Linked DNA regions of Homo sapiens: region 2 is linked to region 1. Evidence: fine-mapped expression QTL. A gene starts in region 1. The other region holds a variant in brackets. All regions are shown on one strand. Distances are between the middles of the regions.

The links. PIP is the estimated chance that this variant, and not a neighbour inherited with it, causes the effect.
Region 2: its variant is fine-mapped to the expression of UPF3B in fibroblasts (GTEx, PIP above 0.99).

The regions. Positions count from the first base shown.
Region 1 is chrX:119,846,757-119,857,130 of GRCh38, forward strand. UPF3B (UPF3B regulator of nonsense mediated mRNA decay) reads right to left here and starts at 6,207. Exons shown (of 11, transcript NM_080632.3): 1 at 6,017-6,207; 2 at 5,011-5,117; 3 at 4,739-4,845. The coding sequence starts at 6,172. RefSeq lists an enhancer at 6,182-6,241.
Region 2 is chrX:119,812,916-119,823,289 of GRCh38, forward strand. It overlaps a transcript of UPF3B not described here and the pseudogene LOC100422368. Among named protein-coding and RNA genes, the nearest start is that of RPL39, 26 kb to the left of the region's middle. The variant G/A (reference allele first, on the strand shown) is at 5,768.

The DNA of each region.
Region 1 (10,374 bases):
AAGTAAAAAATAGATAAATTGGACTACGTCAAAATTAGAAACTTCTATGCATCAAAAGACACAATCAACAGAGTGAAAAGGCAACCCATGGAATGGGAGAAATATTTGCAAATTATATTATCTGATAAGGGGTAATATCGAGAATATATAAAGAACTCCTATAACTCAACAACAAAAAACCAAATAACCCAATTTAAAAAATGGTCAAAAGACTTGAATAGACATTTCTTCAAAGATAATATACAAATGGCTAACAAGCATATGGAAATATGTTCCACATTACTAGTCATTAGGGAAATGCAAATCAAAACCACAATGAGGTATCATCTCACGCCTATTAGGAGGACTACTATCAAAAAGCAGAAAATAACAAGTGTTGGCAAAGATGTGGAGAAACTGGAACACTCATGTATTGGTGGGAATGTAAAATGATGCAGCTGCATGGAAAACAGTATGGCAGTTCCATAAAACATTAAAAATAGAATTATTGGGCCAGCCTGACTAACATGGTAAAACCCCATCTCTACTAAAAATACAAAAATTAGCTGGGTGTGGTGGTGGGCACCTGTAATCCCAGCTACTCAGGAGGCTGAGGCAGGAGAATTGCTTGAACCCAGGAGGTGGAGGTTGCAATGAGGGAAGATCGCGCCATTGTACTTACTCCAGCCTGGGCAATGAGGGCGAAATTCCATCTCAAAAAAACAAAACAAAACAAAAAAGAACTACCGGCGGGGCACAGTGGCTCACACCTGTAACCTCAGCACTTTGAGAGGCCGAGGTGGGCGCATCACTTGAGGTCAGGAGTTTGAGACCAGCCTGGCCAACATGGTGAAACTCCGTCTCTACCACAAACATAAAAAATTAGCAGGGTGTGGTGGCAGGTGTCTGTAATCCCAGATACTTGGGAGGCTGAGGCAGGAGAATTGCTTGCACCTGGGAGGTGGAGGTTGCAGTGAGCCAAGATCATGCCACTGCACTCCAGCCTGTGTGACAGAGACTCTGTCTCAAAATAAATAAATAATAAAATAAAAATAGAATTACCAAATGACTCCAGAAATTCCATTTCTCGGTATATATCCAAAAGCAGTGAGAACAAGGACTCGAATATGTGCACATCTGTGTTCATAACAATATTGTTCACAATAGCCAAGAGTGGAAGCAACTCGAATACCCCTTGACAGATGAATGGATACACAAAATGTGGTATATACATATACTGGAATATTAGTCTTAAAAATGAGGCTGGGGGCAGTGGCTCATGCCTGTAATTCCTAGCATTTTGGGAGGCTGAGGCAGGCATGTCACTTCAGGTCAGGAGTTTGAAACTAGCCTGGCCAACACAGTGAAACCCCATCTTTACCAAAAGTACAAAAAAATTAGCCAGCTGTGGTGGTGGGTACCTGTAATCCCAGCTACTTGGGAGGCTGAGGCTGGAGAATTGCTTGAACCCAGGAAGCGGAGGTTGCAGTGAGCTGAGATCGCGCCACTGCATTCCAGCCTGGGCAACAAAGTGAGACTCCATCTCAAAAAAAAAAAAAAAAAAAAAAAAGATGAAAATTCTGACACATGCTACGACATGGATACACCTTGAAGATATTATGCTAAATGAAATAAGCCAGACAGACACTGTATGTTTCCACCTATATGTGGTACCTACAGTAGTGAAACTCATACAGACACAAGGTATAATGGTGGTTGCCAGGGGCTGGAGGAAGGGAAATAAGGAGTTGTTTAATGGGTAAAGAGTTTCAGTTTTTCAAGATGAAAAAGTTCCCAAGATTGTTGCACAACAGTGTGAATATACCTTAATGCTACTGAACTGTACACTTAAAATGGTTAAGATGGTAAATTTTATGTTACGTGTATTTTTACAATTTTTAAAAATGCAAAAGGAATGAGGTAATGATATATGTTATATGTTACAACATGGATGGACCTTGAAAACATTGTGCTAGGTAAAAGAAGCCAGTCAGAAAAGACCACATATTGTATGATTACATTTATATGAAATGGAGGGAAATCATAGATACATAAAGTAGATTAGTGGTTGCCAGGGGCTGGAGGGAGAGAATGGGAGGTAACTACTAATAGATATGGGTTTCTTTTTGGAGGGATGAAAACATTCTGGAATTAGTACTGATGGTTGTACTACCTTGTGAATATACCAGAAACCACTGAATTGTACGCTTTAAGAGGATGAATTTTATTATAGGTGAGTTATATTTCAATACAAAAACCCCAAGTGACTAATGGGAAAAAAATTCACAAGCACCCTGTCACAGAATGTCAAAAACAAGGTATCCTATCCTTAAATCATTGGCATGTAGACATAAGCAGAAAAATAAAAATAAACAGAATTGACCAGAAGGCACTGCAAAGCAGTCATGGAGGAAAAATTATGTTGGGAATCCCAGTGAGTAGAGAATCAGATTAGCTTCAAAACTGTGATATATTAGGCCAGGCATGGTGGCTCACGCCTGTAATCCCAGCACTTTGGGAGGCTGAGGCGGGTGGATTGCTTGAGGCCAGGAGTTTGAGACCAGCCTGGCCAACATGGTGAAACCCCATCTCCTAAAATTACAAAAATTAGCTGGGCGTGGCGGCACACACCTGTAATCCCAGCTAAGTCGGCAGGCTGAGGAACGAGAATTGCTTGAACCCAGGAGGCGGAGGTTGTAATGAGCCAAGATTGTGCCACTGTACTCCAGCCTGGGCGACAGAGTTAAGACTCTGTCTCAAAAAAAAAAAGAGAGAGAGAGAGAAGAAAAAGAAAAAAAACAAAAATAAAAACCAAAAAACAAAACTGTGATATATTTGAGAAGGAATAGATAAACCAGACTGAAACAGAGGGAAATTGTGGAAGACAGGCTGAAGAAACAGAAGTGAGGCCAGAATATGGAGGACCCTGACTACCAGGCTAAGGAGTTTGGACTTTTTCCCCCAACTGTTAATTTAAATCATTATTTTCAAAAAGATTAATTTCATGGCAATATAATAGACTGAATTATACAAGAATGAAAAAAATGGAAAATCCTGTAAGTTTAGAGACAGTGGTTGTCTAGGCATTAAGTGATGAGGACATAAAGTGTGACTGTTTAAGGCTAGGTGAACAAGATATTAAAAAAAAACAATAAAATCCAGCCTGGGCAACATAAGCAGACCTTGTCTCTAAGATTTAAAAACAAAACAAAACAAACAAACAAACAAAAAACACAATGAGGAAAGGATAGTCTCTTTAATAAGTGGTGTTGAGCTGGGTATGGTGGCTCGCACCTGTAATCCCAGCACTTTGGGAGGCTGAGGTGGGGGGGGGGAAATCACTTGAGCCCAGGAGTTCAAGACCAGCCTGGGCAACGTAGTGAGACCCCATCTCTATAAAAAATTTAAAGAAAATTAGCCAGGCATGGTGACATACATCTGTAGTCCCAGCTACTCAGGAGGCTGAGGTGGGAGGATTGCTTGAGTCCAGGAATTCCAGGCTGCAGTGAGCTCTGATTGCGCCACAGCACTCCAGCCTGGGTGGAGACCCTATCTCAAAAGATAAACAATAAATTGACAAGATTCATAACTTACATGTAAGAGATTTTTAAAAAAGGAAAAAATTAAACACAACTCAGATTTCCAGGCTAAGTAACTAGAATCTAGTTAAATATCTACTGGAATAAAATAGTTGGAGTGGAAAAATAGCTGGCTTGGGGAGATTAATAAAAGTTGGACAAACAGTGGCAATCCTTCAATTTTTACTGGCATAGTCCCTGACAAAAATTTAATTTTTACCAACTTTGAAGTAATATTGAAAAAAACAAAACAAAACAAGAAGACACACTATTTACCTATAATTGCAAACCAAAAAGAAAAGTGGCAAATGGCAGCTTAGATATTCTCTGGCTAAATGTAGGTAGCAGATAATAGAGTGTTAAAGTAGAAATGTGTCTTCCCTATAGACTGGACCTTTCTGGATATAAAGTAAGAGATGTATCAAGTTTCTTTTTTTCGATTTTGAGACAGAGTCTCGCTCTGTCGCCAGGCTGGAGTGCAGTGGCGTGATCTCAGCTCACTGCAACCTCTGCCTCCCAGGTTCAAGCGATTCTTCTGCCTCAGCCTCCCAAGTAGCTGGGATTACAGGCGTGGACCGCCACGCCTGGCTAATTTTTTTAGCATTTTTAGTAGAGATGGGGTTTCACCACGTTGGCCAGGCTGGTCTCGATCTCCTGACCTCGTGATCCACCTGCCTCGGCATCCCAAAGTGCTGGGATAACAGGCGTGAGCCACCACACCAGGCCGAGATGTATCAAGTTTCATGTTTTAATTATATACAACTTTGTGAGAATGTTAAACAGTATCCCAATTGGGAACTGTTGGCTTAATGGATTTGAATTAAATAAATGTTTGTCCTCGAAGCAAAATAAGAAGTAAATATTTAAAACTTATCAAACAAGTTTAAGAGTCACTTATCAGTACTGCGGCTGAAATTCTACAGTCAAAACAGCAGGTTTAAGCCAGGGCAAAAAATGTGTCACACGAGGAGAAAACAGTTGCAATTTCACTCAGTTGATCAAACTAAAAAAATAGTAGGTTAATAAAAATAACCAAGGACTGTGAAAAGTCACGTCTATTTATAAGACTGCAATAAGCTTATTAAATGTGTAAAACTCTAGGAAGCAACGCAATGCACGAGTTGTCTTAAACATACAAATGACAAAGAAATTCCCTTTTTACTTCAGTTACCAGGACTCACCTTTATTGTCAAGGAATACATAACCATCAAAGCGATCCCTGAACAAAATAATGTCCTCTTGGTTTTTAAAGTTGATGTATGCTCTGGCATACATATGAGGATACAAACTGCAGAGAGGAAAGCAATTATGTAAATGTACTCGCAGGTGTCTGGCCCAATTACAAGTATGCATATATTAAAGACAAGCTCAAAAATCAAATGAAAAACAGTAGGATAAAAAGAATGAAAGAAACCTTTTTCATTTACCCCTTTCCTTTTTTTTTTTTTTTTACCTCGTATCATTAGAAAAAAACTCAAAATAATCATGCTCAGGCATAGGTTGAAGATGTTCCTGAAGCTGCTCCTTGGTCAAAGTGGGAGGTAATCTTCGAATTACCACCTTAAGAAATGCATAAGGAAAATAAAATTAGTACAAATCAGTTTTCTGTCATACCTGAAAGAATCACAGTTCCTGAAGAAGGCTGGGCTTTAAAATATGAGATCACTTGTAAAAACCCAGGAGAAAATATTCTTCTGCAGCCCAATGCTCAGAATTAGTCAAACATAATAGTAACGCGGTTTAAAAAAACCCTTGGAAATGAGAACCACCTGGAGCAAGGAAAAATCGCAGGTTTTGCTCTTTACAGCAGCCCTGCAGTTTACCAGGTTTGTGCATCATTTTCGATCACCCATTTTTTAACAGATCTAGTGGCAATAACTTAGTAAGCCAACGCTGGTCTTTGTGGGTGCCACGAAATCTTGATTTAGCAACAAGTTTCTCCCACGTCCAACACATCTTAAAACAAAATCCTTGCCCATTGAACTTAAGAATTCAAAACTCTAACGAATACAAAAAATCTACCCATTGCTCTCAAAATAGGATGCTCTCGATCTACCCTCCTGTACCATTAATCACCCTGCACTCTCCCCCAACTCGCCTCCATGAATAATATTCCCATCCCTCATGTCTCCTTCACTATTTAATATTTCTCCCCAATTACACCTTTAGTTCCTCATTCTTTATACCGTCGCTCTTCCCTCCCATTATCATCTCACAGCTCTGACCTAAACCCTTCCCGTTTGGGGAGTCCCCTCTTTTCCTCACCCCCACCCAGGATTTGGCCGGGAGGGGCTCTCCCCATTTCGGGTGAATGGATGAACCAGGATGATGCGACTTCCATTCAGGCGAAGAGATAGAAGGAGAACCTGAGAAAGAAAGGGGGCAGCCCCATTCCCAGCCATCCTCCCCGCGCTGCGGACTCGTCCCGCCCTCTCCCGGGCCAGCGGCCGACCGGGCACCTTGCTCAGCGCTTCTTTCTTCTCCTTGTTGCGATCCTGCTTATCTTCCCCCTTGGAGCTGTCCCCCGAGGTCCCACCACCGCTGCCTGTGGCCCCGGCGGGGGTTAACAGGGTTACTCGCTTCTCCTTAGGCCTGTGCTCCTTCTCTTCCTTCATGGCTACGTCCCCCGCTGAAGCGGCTTGGCCGGAACGGGGTTACCCCGGGCACAAACGGCTCCCGGGAAGCTCCCGTCAAAGCTCCGCCCCCAACAAATGCCCCTTGTGATAAGTCGGGCCCCACGTTCCATTGGGTCCTGCCAAGCTCTCGCGAGACTTGGGCCTTTCCCAGTGCAAAGGTTTTAACACCTGGTTTTTACTTCCCGCCCGCCAAGTTCCTGCGCCACCCAATCCCCTCGCGGCCCAGACTCCCTCGGGGCCCGCCCCTTCGCGCGTCATTAGCAATTCCGCCATCTTGAAGTGACTCTGTCGGGGACTACAAATCCCGGCATACAAAGCAGCTACCCGCTTTTGTTGGGCGTTCAGGGGCCAGAGCTATCTCAGGGTCCCTGTTTGTGAGTAAATCGAATCCTTTCATCTTCAGAGTTTTCCAGGTCGAAAGATAGGTTCTTCACGCTTAGTTTCCATCAGATAAACTCAATGCCGTCCAAATTTTGCCTCACTAGGGGAGCGACTTGTATTTTTTATCATTGAATTCAGAGGCTTTAGCATTTATTTTCCTACAACTAAAAGAAAAAGCCTAACATTTAAAAAACTTTATTTTCCTTATATTGATTAGGATTTACAGATACTTAGTAAATACTACAATATTAGCCGAGTTCAGTGGCGCACGCCTGTAGTCCCAGCTGCTCGGGAAGGTTGAGAAGAGAGGATCTTGAGCCCAGGAATTCGAGGCTGCAGTGAGCCATGATCGCGCCGCTGCACTCCAGCTTGGGCGACAGAGCGAGACCCTGTATATAAAAAAGAAGGATAATAATAAATAAACACAAGATACTGATATTTAAAGGAGTAATATGACTAAAATATACAAGATTTGTTTTCATCACCTTATTTTAGCAAAAGGATCCTTCTCCCCAGGTACTGATGTCCCACAGGGAGGGGAATAAAAATAAAACCCAACTTGATTTAGTTGCGATCACCATCTTCACTTAAAAAGGGCCAATTTTACATTATTTATAATAACTCCAAACTGGAAACAATCCAAATGTGAATCTAACAGTGATTATGTTGAGTGACAGAATCTAGACACAGAGTACATGTTGTACAATTCCATTTATATGAAATTTTAGAAAAATAAAACCACAGTGATAGAAAGCAGATCAGTCGGCCAGGCGTGGTGGCTCACGCCTGTAATCCCAGCACTTTAGGAGGCCAAGGTGGGTGGATCACCTGAGGTCAGGAGTTCGAGACCAGCCTGGCTAACTTGGCGAAACCCTGTCTCTACTAAAAACAAAAAAAATTAGCAGGGCGTGGTGGCACATTCCTGTAATCCCAGCACTTTGAGAGGCCGAGGCCGGCGGATCACCTGAGATCAGGAGTTCGACACCAGCCTGGCCAACTTGGTGAAACCCTGTCTCTACTAAAATACAAAAATTATCTGGGCATGGTGGCAGGCGCCTGTAGTCCCAGCTATTTGGGAGGCTGAGGCAGGAGAGTCACTTGAACCTGGGAGGCGGAGGTTGCAGTGAGCCGAGGTTGTGCCACCGCACTCCAACCTGGGTGACAGAGTGAGACTCCATCTCAAAAAGAGAGAGAGACACAGACACCCATAGAGGACAGAAACCAAATTAAAGATGCAATAGGAGCCCAAGGCAGAAAGCTGCCTAAGGGCCAACTCCCATTTTTGCCGACCTCTAGAATATATTCCCCTGACTCTGCACTTAAATTTTCTCACTCCAATTGTCCAGCCTATTCTTGGATTCCTATTCCTGTGGCTAAAACGGTTTCCCTGTATTTGACATCTGTTACTCTTGCTTTCAGTACCTGGCCGTTCTTATGAGCCTTGTTTATGCATCTGCCTCTGACCTACTGCTTAGCTCTGCACTTGCATGTTGGTAGTGTATGCCTCTGTTTTGGTGTCCTCACTAGCTTTAAACCACCAGCTGTTTGTCAGTTGCCAGAATAAAGTGTCCCAGGGCTCAGTCCTTAGACCTCTTTTCTATGTACACTCACTCCTTTATTAATCTCATTCATTCTTTTGGCTTTTCTGTCTTTGCTGACAACTCTACTCTAGAATTTACATGTCCAGGCCGGGCGTGGTGGCTCACAGCTGTAATCTCAGCACTTTGGGAGGCCGAGGCGGGTGGATCACCTGAGGTCGGGAGTTCGAGACCAGCCTGGCCAACATGTGACATCCCGTCTCTACTAAAAATACAAAAAAATTAGCCGGGCGTGGTGGCAGGCAGCTATAATCCCAGCTACTCAGGAGGCTGAGGCAGGTGATTCGCTTGAACCCAGGAGGTCGAGGTTGCAGTGAGCCGAGATTGTGCCAGTGCACTCCAGTCTGGGCGACAGAGCGAGACTCCGTCTCAAAACCAAAACAAAACAAAAAAAGAATTTACATCTCCAGCCCATACCTCCCTGATGATTTCCAGAGTCATGTATCCAACTGCCTATTGAACATCTCCACTTAAGACGTCTAACGTGTTCAGCCACCGAATGCATCCAAAACTGAACACTTGATCTTCCCCCACACCAACTGTATTAGCCTCCTATTCCTGCTGTAACATTACCACAAATTTAGTGGGTTTAAATAATGCAAGTGTATTATCTTACAGTTCTGTAGGTTAAAAGTCCAACAAGGTTTTAGCTTTGTCCTGTGAGGGGGCAAAAAAATATAGTAATAATAAATAAACAAACAGTCCAATATGGGTCTCACTGGGCTAAAATCAAGGTGTTGGCAGGACTGAGTTCCTTCCTGGAGGCTCTAGGAGATAATAGATTTCCTTGTCTTTTTCAGATTCTTGAGGCGGCCCATATTCCTTGGCTTATGAACCCTTCGTCTTCAAGCATCTCTCTCTGACCCTGCCCCTACTTCTGTCTATTGTCTATATCTCTTTTATTCTCTGCCTTGCCATTCCAAGTTTTTTTTTCAGGGTCACAGTTCACTGAAGGCTTAAACTCCTGAGCTGAAGTGATCCTCCTGCCTTAGCCTCCCAAATAGCTGGGACTACAGGTGCATGCCACCATGCCCAGCTAATTTATTTTCATTTTTGTAGAGAAGGGGTCTCACTGTGTTGCCCAGGCTGGTCTCCAACTCCTGGCCTCTGCACTTTCCCCTTTCACTTTGAAGGACTCCTGTGTTTACATTGTGTCCGCCTGTAAAATCCAGGATAATCTCCCTATTTTAAGGACAGCTGATTAGCAACATTAATTTCCTTTTGCTATATAACCTAACACAGTCATGGGTTCTGGGGATTAGGATGTGTACAACTTTGGGGGAGATATTATTCTACCTAACACATACTGTAGACTTCCTTTTTGATGAAACTTTTAATTGCAGTATAACAGATGTACAGACAAGTGCACTAAAAGTAAGCATCCAGCTTGCTGAATTTTCACAAAGTGAACACACTTATGTAACCAGCATGTAGATCAAGAAACAAAACATTGCCAGCACTCCAGATGCTCTCTTCCTACTTGTTCCCAGTCATTTTCGCCACCAAGAATACCACTATCCTTTTTGCTTTTTCTTTTTTAGCAGCTACATCCTTTTATGAATGACTTCTAATACTATTGAGTTTGTCTGTTTTGAACTTTATGTAAATTGAATCATACAGCATGTATTCTTTTATGTTAGGCTCCTTTCTCTCAACATTTATGACTGAGATTTCTTTATTTATTTATTTAGAGACGGAATCTCGCTCTGTCGCCCAGGCTGAGGTGCAGTGGCGCCATCTTGGCTTACATCTTGGCTCACTGCAACCTCCACCTCCCGGGTTCAAGCGATTCTTCTGCCTCAGCCTCCCGAGTAGCTGGGAGTACAGGCGTGTGCCACCACGCCCGGCTAATTTTTGTATTTTTAGTAGAAATGGGGTTTCACCATATTGGCTGTTGGATACAGTGAGATCTAGATCTCTCTTCAAAGAATCAGTATGTCAGTATGTTCAGTTCTTTGTCCTCCATTGTAAAGTTTAACTTCCTCGTAGTTTCAGTAAACAACATTTTCCACCAGTTTTCATCAGTAGTTCACATCTGTTCCCCTGGTTACCTGCTCCGTCCTGACTCACCCCGGTCATCCGCTTTGACCTGAGTCACCCCTGGTCCCTGCTCTGACCTAAGTCACCTTTAGTTACCTGTTCCTAACCGTCCTTCCCACCAAACTATTCACCCCGCCACTCTGGCTCATACCCCTGGTCTCT
Region 2 (10,374 bases), 34 kb before region 1:
TTTCTTGTCTTCCTTAGCCTCTCTGTGGCACGGGACATTGTCAGCCAATCTCCTTCTAGAAATTTTCCCTTCCTTTAGTACTCTTGCCCAGTTGACAATCATTTACTTTCAGTCATTATTGGTGGCTCTTGTACCTGCCTCTTTGGCTATTTGTTTCTAAAAGCTGGGAAAACATAAAGTGGTGATTAAGAAAGTAAAGGCGAACTGATGCCACGTCAGGAAGGGCTGGCAGAATGAATGAAAATCAGGCAAAAGCTCAAGGATGTTGTCTAACATTTTGTTCTTATGGGACAAGAATAGTGGATGTAGTTTGGATATTTGTCCCCACCCAAATCTCATGGAAATATAATCCCCAGTGTTGTAGGTGGGTCCTGGTGGGGTGTTGGGGTTATGGGGCGGATCCCTCATGGCTTGGTGCTGTCCTCTCCATAGTGAGTTCTTACAGAGCTGGTTGTTGTAAAGTGTGGCACCTCCTCCCCGCACTCACTCTCTTGCTCACTCTGTGATGTGAGATGGCTGCTCCTGCTTTACCTTCCGCTATGAGTAAAAGCTCCCTGAGGCCTCCCAGAAGCTGAGCAATGTGAGATTCCCGACTTGTACAGCCTGCAGAACTATAAGCCAATTAAACCTCTTTTATTTTTTTCTTTTCTTTTTTTTTTTTTTTGAGATGGAGTCTCGCTCTGTCACCCAGGCTGGAGTGCAGTGGTGCTATCTTGGCTCACTGCAACTTCTGCCTCCTGGGTTCAAGCGATTCTCCTGCCTCGGCCTCCCGAGTAGCTTGGATTACAGGAGCGTGCCACCATGCCCGGTTAATTTTTTTGTATTTTTAGTAGAGACAGGGTTTCACCATGTTGGCCAGGCTGGTCTCAAACTCCTGACATCAAGTGGTCATCCCACCTCAGCCTCACAAAGTGCTGGGATTACAGGCATGAGCCACCGTGCCTGGCCAAACTTCTTTTCTTATCAATTACCCAGTCTCAGGTGTTTCTTTTTAGCAGTGCAAGAATGGTCTAATACAGGAGTGAACCATGAACTGATCGTTCTCTGGTGGACAAAACAAAGGCATGCTAGCGAAGGCAGAAACTAATATCATTCATCTGCTTTCCAAACTCCAAAGAGGTTAATTCAGTATCAAAAAATTAATTTCTCAAAATTCACAGCTGTTTGCTAAAGTTACTCACTACACTTAACTTCATACTTGAATGCTGTTACTATTTATTGACATCAAAACAAAACAAGCTGAGACTAAAAGTTGCTATTTAACAGGAATAGACATCGGTGCAGTTTCCTTCCTGGAGAGGGTAGGCACTCAGATCATGAGACCTAAGATCAAACAAACTAGATTGTCAAGAATCCAACAAGGACTACATTTTACCTCTTAATAAAAAAAATGCTGGAGACAAAACAAGATGTTTAAAAATATTCTTCATGCCAAGCTTAGATAAGCAAATAAAAAACTAAAACTAATCCTAAAACTTGAGGATATTGGATACGGAAGTAACATGACTATTTAAATGTTTGCATCAATGAAAGTTTGTTCTATTCTTCCCTGTACTTGTACTACAAGGACATGCTTGTTGCTTCTATACTACCCAAAGTCAACAGTTATCATCAACAATTCAGTAGAAATAGATCAGAACAAGACTTCAAAGCGACTCTGCTCCACCAAAATTTAGAAACTCAATTTGGGATGAACAAAAGCTTTTGATTTTAGAACCAGCTCTTACTTTTCTCTCATGTCATATGTGATGAAGTCCTCACTTGACATTTCCCCCTGCAAATTGCAATGCATGTCCTTGCCATCATCTTTTTCTGACACTTTAATTTATAGAAATTGCAAAAGCAATGAAATTGTACTTCCAATTCTGAACCTCTGATCAGATTCCTGCTTTGAGGCAAAACTTACTCCTCTGCTGCACACTCCTCTACTCTTTTCTTTCTTTCTTTTTTTTTTTTTTTTTTTTTTTTGAGATGGAGTCTTACTCTGTTGCCCAGGCTGGAGTGCAGTGGCAAGATCACGGCTTACTGCAACCTCCGCCTCCTGAGTTCAAGCGATTCTCCTGCCTCAGCCTCCCGAGTACCTGGGACTACAGGCACCTGGCACCACGCCTGGCTAGTTCTTGTATTTTCAGTAGAGATGGGGTTTCACCATGTTGACCAGGCTGGTCTCAAACTCCTGACCTCAGGTAATCCACCCGCCTCGGCCTCCCAAGGTGCTGGGATTACAGGCGTGAACCATCACACCCAGCCTCTCCTCTTCTTTTGTATGGCTAATACAACTTTCCTGCTTTCTTTCTACTGCTGAATCTCCAGACTTGGTTATGTCATCAGGGTGCGAGAGTCGACCTTGGCTTCGAGCTCCTGGATGGTAACGCTGCATCCCTGGATGATTCTGAAGTACAATGAAATATGTTACTGTTACAACAATGCTGCTAAGCTTTTACGTGGGATTTTCAAGTCATAACTTATATATTAATATATACTAAAGTCCAGTCATTTAAGACCAAAAATGTGAAGGCATGGTAAATGACAACTTGCCCACTTCCTCTCTCCATTTCCAAAGAAAAGCAACCATTTCCTAATTATTATTTTATAAGCCTGGTACAACTTATTTTTCTTAGAGACATGGTCTCATTTTGTCACTCAGGCTGAAGTGCAAATGGCAAGATTGCAGCTCACAACAGCCTTGACATTCCAGACTCCAGCCATCCTCCCACCTCAGCTTCCTAGTAGCTGGAATTGCAGGCACGCTCTACCACACTGGGCTAAGTTTTAAAATTTTTAATAGAGATGGGGTCTCCCTATGTTATCCGGGCTGGCTTTGAACTCCTGAAGTTAAATGATTCTGCCACCTTGGCCTCCCAAATGCTAGGATTGCCTGCATAGACGAAGTTTCGCTCTGGTTGTCCAGGTTGGAGTGCAGTAGTGCAATCTCGGCTCACTGTAACCTCTGCCTCCCGGGTTCAAGCGATTCTCCTGCCTTAGTCTGCTGAGTAGCTGGGACTACAGGTGCACACCACCAAGCCCGGCTAATTTTTGTATTTTTAGTAGAGACGGGGTTTCACCACGTAGGCCAGGTTCATCTCCAACTGCTGACCTCAAGTGATCCACCTGCCTCGGCCTCCCAAAGTGCTGGGATTACAGGCATGAGCCACCATGCCTGGCCTATAGTTATTAAGGACATGAAATTATGCTTTATGAGGAAGTGGTCCTCACCCCCCTTGCCTGCAACACAAGAAAGGAGAGCAAGGGAGCAAAGTAGAAGAAAGGTGGCACTGGGGAAAGGATATCAATTCAAGACTGATGGTAAAAATTGCTTAGCAGGAGTGAAGGCTCTCCTGTGGTTTCACCAATTGATCTGCTTGAGGGATTTTCTCCAGCGACACTTGCAGCTTAGGGGCAAGAGGCTCCCACAACACCCTGTGCTACCGCGACCCTTCTGACATTGTGCATCATGATCTGATTATTGCTATTTGCCTCTTGCCAACACTGAAACATGAGTTCCACGTGCACAAGGACTTATTTGAATCCCTGACCCCAGGGCCTGGCACACAGTCAGTGATTGGTACATGTTTGCTAAATGAATGAGCAAATGGAAGAAATTGAAGAGGGTGGGGTGGGGATGGGTGATTTATCCAGAGCTGGACAGGCCAGGCAAGTAGAACAGAAGAGGGAGGTGCTGACATGAAAACAGGCTAGACAAAGAGGCAAGGATGTCAACTCATGCCTGGGGGTTCAGGAGTGTTGCTTCTCCTAAGGCCAACTCCTCTAACCTCTACCTTGGCTTCCATTTTCACCTGCCTTTGCAGGAAGCCTACAGTATTCGTTGTCTCTTTCTCTTGAGTATTCATCCTTGTAGAGCTTACCTTTTGGCTTCTAAACTTACTTACTTTCTCATATTTAAAATAAAGCTTCATTAACACCATTAACCTATGTATCTCCATTTCTTTCACAGCTATATTAATTGGTTTTCACACTAGTAGAAAAAATACCCAAGGCTGGGTAATATATAAAGAGAAGAGGTTTAATTATTTTATTTTATTTTTATTTATTTATAAAATAAATAAAATATGTGACGTAGTCTCGCTCTTGTCGCCCAGGCTGGAGTGCAATGGTGCGATCTCGGCTGACCACACTTCTGCCCTTCAGGTTTAGGCGCTTCTCCTGCCTCAGCCTCCTGAGTAGCTAGAATTACAGGCGGGCATAAGCACACCCAGCTAATTTTTGTATTTTTAGTAGAGATGGGTTTCGCCATGTTTGCCTGGCTGGTCTGGAACTCCTGACCTCAGGTGATCCACCGGCCTTGGTATCCCAAAGCTGGGATTACAGGGGTGAGCCACCAAGCCCAGCCGAAGAGGTTTAATTGACTCACAGTTCCACATGGCTGGGGGAGCCTCAGGAAACTTACAATCATGGCAGAAGGGGAAGTGGACACATGCTACATGGCAGCAGACTAGAGGTGAAGTGCGAGCATAGGAAAAACTGCCTTGTTTAAAACCATCAGATCTTGTGAGGCTTACTCACTATCACAAGATCAGCATGTGTGAGACTGCCCCAATAATCCAATCACCTCCTACCAAGCTCCTCCCTTGACACATGAGGATTACAGTTTAAGATGAGATTTGGGTGCGGGAACAGAGCTCAATCATATCAACAGTCATATGAGAAGTCTTCAAAAAGTCCATGGAAAATGTGTATTATCAAGAAACTATGCATGGATTGCAAAATCTTTTGGCATCAAAATAAACTGGTACTAACTCGTTAAAAAATATCTCGACAGGATCTAGTTTGAGGCATTAAAAAGGAGAAAGCATCAGTGTGAAAAGAGCTCCTATCAGCGAAAAATGGATTCTGCTAAAATTGAAGGAAGAACAAACATAAAATTTAAGATGAAGCTTGGGTGGAAGAACGGTAAAATCACTGATGCTTTACCAAAAGTTTATGGGGACAATGCCCCTAAAGAGATCAGCAGTTTACAAATGGATAACTTGTAAGAAAGGACAAAATGATGTTGAAGATGAAGCCTGCAGCAGCAGGTCATCCACATCAATATGCAAGGGAAAAAATTAGGCCAGGCGCAGTGGCTCACACCTGTAATCCCAGCACTTTGGGAGGCCGAGGCGGGTGGATCACAAGGTCAGGGGTTCAAGACCAGCCTGGCCAACATAGTGAAACCCCGTCTCTACTAAAAATACAAAAATTAGTTGGGTATGGTGGCATGAGCCTGTGGTCCCAGCTACTCAGGAGGCCGAGGCAGGAGAATCGCTTGAACCCAGGAGGCGGAGGTTGTGGTGAGCTGAGATCATGCCACTGCACTCCAACCTGGGCAACAGAATGAGACTCCGTCTTAAAAAACAACAACAACAAAAATCCTCTTCGTGCTTTAACTGAAAAGCATCGGCTGGGTGTGGTGGCTCACCCCTGTAATTCCAGCACTCTGGGAGGCCAAGGCGGGCGGGTCATCTGACCAACCTGGCCCACGTGGTGAAACCCTGTCTCTAATAAAAATACAAAAATTAACTGGGTGCGGTGGCAGGTGTCTGTAATTCCAACTACTTGGGAGGCTGAGGCAGGAGAATCATTGAACCCGGGAGGCAGAGGTTGCAGTGAGCCAAGATTGTGCCACTGGCCTCCAGCCTTCGTGAGAGACTAAGACCAACTATTAATGGCAGAAACAACAGCCATCACCATAGACATCACAATTGGTTCAGCTTACACAATTCTGACTGAAAAATTAAAAGTTGAGCAAACTTTCCACTTGATGGGT[G/A]CCAAAACCAGATCAGCTGCAGACAAGAACAGAGATTTCAACGGAAATTTTAAACAAGTGAGATCTATTACGTTGCTGCATATTAATTGTGGTTTATGCCATGGAATGTCAAAAGCCGCAATTACGTTGGCACCAACCAATAGATCATGAAGCATCTATTGGGAAAGTGTAACGGGAGGTGATACGTGGCTTTCCCAGTATGACTCTGAAGACAAAGCAATATCAAAGCAATGACTCTGAAGAGGTGGAAGAGATCCAGTCAAAGCAAAACTGGACTGGCCAAGAGCAAAGGTCATGGCAATAGTTTTTTGAGCTGCTTGAGCAACTCTCCTTATTGACTTTCTGGAGGGCCGAAGAATAGTAACACCAGCTTTTTTTTTTTTTTTTTTGAGACCAAATCTCACTCTGTCACCCAGGCTGGACTGCAGTGGTGCAATCTCGGCTCACTGCAACCTCTGCCTCCCAGGTTCAAGCTGTTCTCCTGCCTCAGCCTCCTGAGTAGCTGGGATTACAGGCACGCACCACCACGCCTGGCTAATTTTTGTATTTTTAGTAGAAACGAGGTTTCACCATGTTGGTCAGGCTTGTCTCGAACTGCTGACCTCGTGATCCTCCCATCTCGGCCTCCCAGAGTGCTGGGATTACAGGCATGAGCCACCGTGCCCGGCCAACACCTGCTTATTATAAGAGTGTTTTGAGAAGGCCAAAGCTTTAGCAGCAAAATGCCCAGGAAAGCTTCACCAGAGAGTCCTTTTCTACCACGGTAATGCTTCTGCTCGTGCCTCTCATCAAACAAGGGCAATTTTGAGAGTTTCAATGGGAAACCATTAGGCATCCACCTTACAGTCGGGATTTAGCTTCTTCTGTCACTTTTTTGTTTCCTAATTTTAAAAAGTCTGTAAAGGGCAACCATTTCTCTTCAGTTAATAATGTAAAAAAGATTTCATTGATGTGGTTAAATTCCAAGGACCTCCACTTCTTAGGGGATGGATGAAATGACTAGTATGTAATTGTTGTGAGCAAGAGACATACATACATACATAAATGGCTAGTTATCATTGCTTATGAAAGTGTCTTGACCTTGGTGGATCTTACGATGAGAAGTTTATATTTTTTTCTTTTATTTCTATTTTCCACAAACTTTTCTTTTCTATTTTTCCTTTTTTTTTTTTTTTTTTTTGAGATGGAGTCTGGCTCTGTCGCCCAGGCAGGAGTGCAGTGGCACGACCTTGGCTCACTGCAATCTCCGCCTCTTGGGTTCAAACGATTCTCTAGCCTCAGCCTCCCGACTAACTGGGATTACAGGAGCCCGCCACTGTGCCTGGCTAATTTTTGTATTTTTAGTAGAGACTGGGTTTCACCATGTTGGCCAGGTTTGTCTTGAATCCCTAACCTCAGGTGAAGTGCCCGCCTTGGCCTCCCAAAGTGCTGGGACTACAGGCATGTGCCACCTCAATCCCCTGCCTTTTTGTTGTGGGGAGGATGGAGTCTCCCTCTGTCGCTCAGGCAGGAGTGCAGTGGTGAGATCTAGGCTCACTACAACCTCTGCCTCCCGAGTTGAAGTGATTCTCCTGTCTGAGCCTCCTGAGAAGTTTGGACTACAGGTGTGCTCCACCAAGCCCGGCCAAATTTTTTTTTTGTATTTTTTGGTAGAGATGGGGTTTTACCATGTTGGCCAGGCTGGTCTCAAACTCCTGACCTCAGGTGATCCACCTACCTCAGCCTCCCAAAGTGCTGGGATTACAGGCATGTGCCACCAAGCCCGGCCTTTTTTTGGGTGTGGTGGTGAGGGGGGCAGATGGAGTCTAACTCTGTTGCTCAGGCAGGAGTGCAGGATTGAGATCTCTGCTCACTGGAACCTCTGCCACTCAAGTTCAAGTGATTCTCCTGCCTGAGCCTCCCGAGGAGTTTGGACTACAGGTGCGCTCCACCAAGCCTGGCCAATTTTTTTTTTTTTGTATTTTTTGGTAGAGATGGAGTTTCACCATGTTGGCCAGGCTGGTCTCGAACTCCTGACCTCAGGTGATCCAACCGCCTCAGCCTCCCAAAGTGCTGGGATTACAGGCATGAGCCACTGCCCCTGGCTTCTGTTCTTTTAAAAATCCATATAAAGCTGGACACGGTGGCTCATGCGTATAATCCCAGCACTTTTCGAGGCTACAGTGGACAGATTGTTTGAGCCCAGGCATCTGGCAAACAGATGCCATGTTAGGAAGGGCTGGCAGGATGAATGAAAATCAGGCAAAAGCTCAAGGATGTTGTCTAAACATTTTGTTCTTATGGGACCAGAACAGTTGATGTAGTTTTGAAATTTGTCCCCACCCAAATCTCATGGAAATATAATCCCCAGTGTTGTAGGTGGGGCCTGGTGGGGTATTGGGGTTATGGGGCGGATCCCTCATGGCTTGGTGCTGTCCTCTCCATAGTGAGTTCTTACAGATCAGGTTGTTGTAAAGTGTGGCACCTCCTTCCCACACTCACTCTCTTGCTCACTCTGTGATGTGACATGCCTGCTCCTGCTTCACTTTCCGCCATGAGTAAAAGGTCCCTGAGGCCTCCCAGAAGCTGAGCAATGTCAGATGCCATGCTTGTACAGCCTGCAGAACTGTGAACCAGTTAAACCTCTTTTCTTATAAACTACCCAGTCTCAGGCATTTATTTATAGCAATGCAAGAACGGCCTAATACAGGAGTGAACCATGAACTGATCTTTCTCTGGTGGACAAAACAAAGGCAATGCCTGTGAAGGCAGAAACTAACATTATTCATCTGCTTTTGATACTTCCAAGAGGCTAATACAGTATAAAAAATTTAATTTCTCAAAACTCACAGCTGGCTGGGCGTGGTGGCTCACGCCTGTAATCCCAGCACTTTGGGAGGCTGAGGCCGGTGGATCACGAGGTCAGGAGTTCAAGACCAGCCTGGCCAAGATGGTGAGACCCCCATCTCTACTAAAAATACAAAAAATTAACCAGGCGCGGTGGCAGGTGCCTGTAGTCCCAGCTACTCAGGAGGCTGAGGAAGGAGAATAATTTGAACCCGGAGGGTGGAGGTTGCAGTGAGCCGAGATTGTGCCACTGCACTCCAGCCTGGGTGACAGAGTGAAACTCTGTCTCAAAAAAAAAACAAAAAAAACAAAAAAAACCTCACAGCTGTTTACTAAAGTTACTCACCACACTTAGCTTCATACTTGACTGCTGTTACTATGTATTGACATCAGAACAAAACAAACTGAAACTAAAAGTTGATATGTAACAACAACAGACATTGGTGCAGTTTCCTTCCTGGAGAGGGTAGGCACCAGATCATGAGACCTGAGATAAAACAAACTAGATTGTCAAGAATCCAACAAGGACTACATTTTACCTCTTAATAGAAAAAATGCTGGAGACAAAACGAGATGTTTAAAAATATTCTTCATGCTAAGCTTATGTAAGCAAATAAAAAAACAAAAGTAACCCTAAAATGTTAGGACATTGGATACAGAAGTAACATGACTATTTAAATGTTTGCATCAATGAAAGTTTGTTCTATCCTTCCCTGTACTTATAGACAAGGACATGCTTGTTGCTTCTACACTACCCAAAGTCAACAGTTATCATTAGCAATGCAATAGAAATAGATGGGAATAAAGCTTCAAAGCGACTCTGCTCCACCAAAATTTAGAAATTCAATTCAGGATGAACAACAGCTTTTGATTTTAAAACCAGCTCTTACTTTTCTCTCGTGTCACACGTGATGAAGTCCTCACTTGACATTTCCCCTGCAAATTGCAATGCATGTCCTCGCCATCAGCATTTTCTGACACTTTAATTTATAGAAATTGCAAAAACAATAAAATTGTACTTCCAATTCTGAACCTCCGACCAGATTCCTTCTTTGAGACAAAACTTACTCTTCTGCTGCGTACTCCTCTCCTCTTTATTTTTTTTTAATTTTTTTGGAGATAGAGCCTCCCTAGTGTCACCCAGGCTAGAGTGCAGTGGCACGATCATGGCTTACTGCAACCTCCACCTCCTGAGTTTAATCAATTCTCCTGCCTCAGCCTCTCGAGTACCTGGGACTACAGGCGCCTGCCACCAAGCCCGGCTAATTTTTGTAGTTTTAGTAGAGACTGGGTTTCACCATGTTGGCCAGGCTGGTCTCAAAGTCCTGACCTCAGGTGATCCACCCATATCGGCCTCCCAAAATGCTGGGATTACAGGCATGAGCCACCACGCCCGGCCTCTCCTCTTCTTTTCTATGGCTAATACCACTTTCCTGCTTTCTTTCTACTGCTGAATCTCCAGACTTGTCATCAGGGTGCCAGAGTCGACCTCGGCCTCGAGCTCCTCGATGGTAACACTGCATCCATGGACAGTCCTGAAGTACAATGAAATATGTTACTGTTACAACAATGCTACTAAGCTTTTACATGAGATTTTTAGGTTATACCTTATATATTAATATATACTAAAGCCCAGTCATTTAAGACCAAATATATGAGGGCATGGTAAATGACAACTTGCCCACTTCCTCTCTCCATCTCCAAAGAAAAGCAACCATTTCCTAATTATTATTTTTTATGTCTGGTTAAATTTATTTTCTTTGGAGACAGGGTCTCACTGT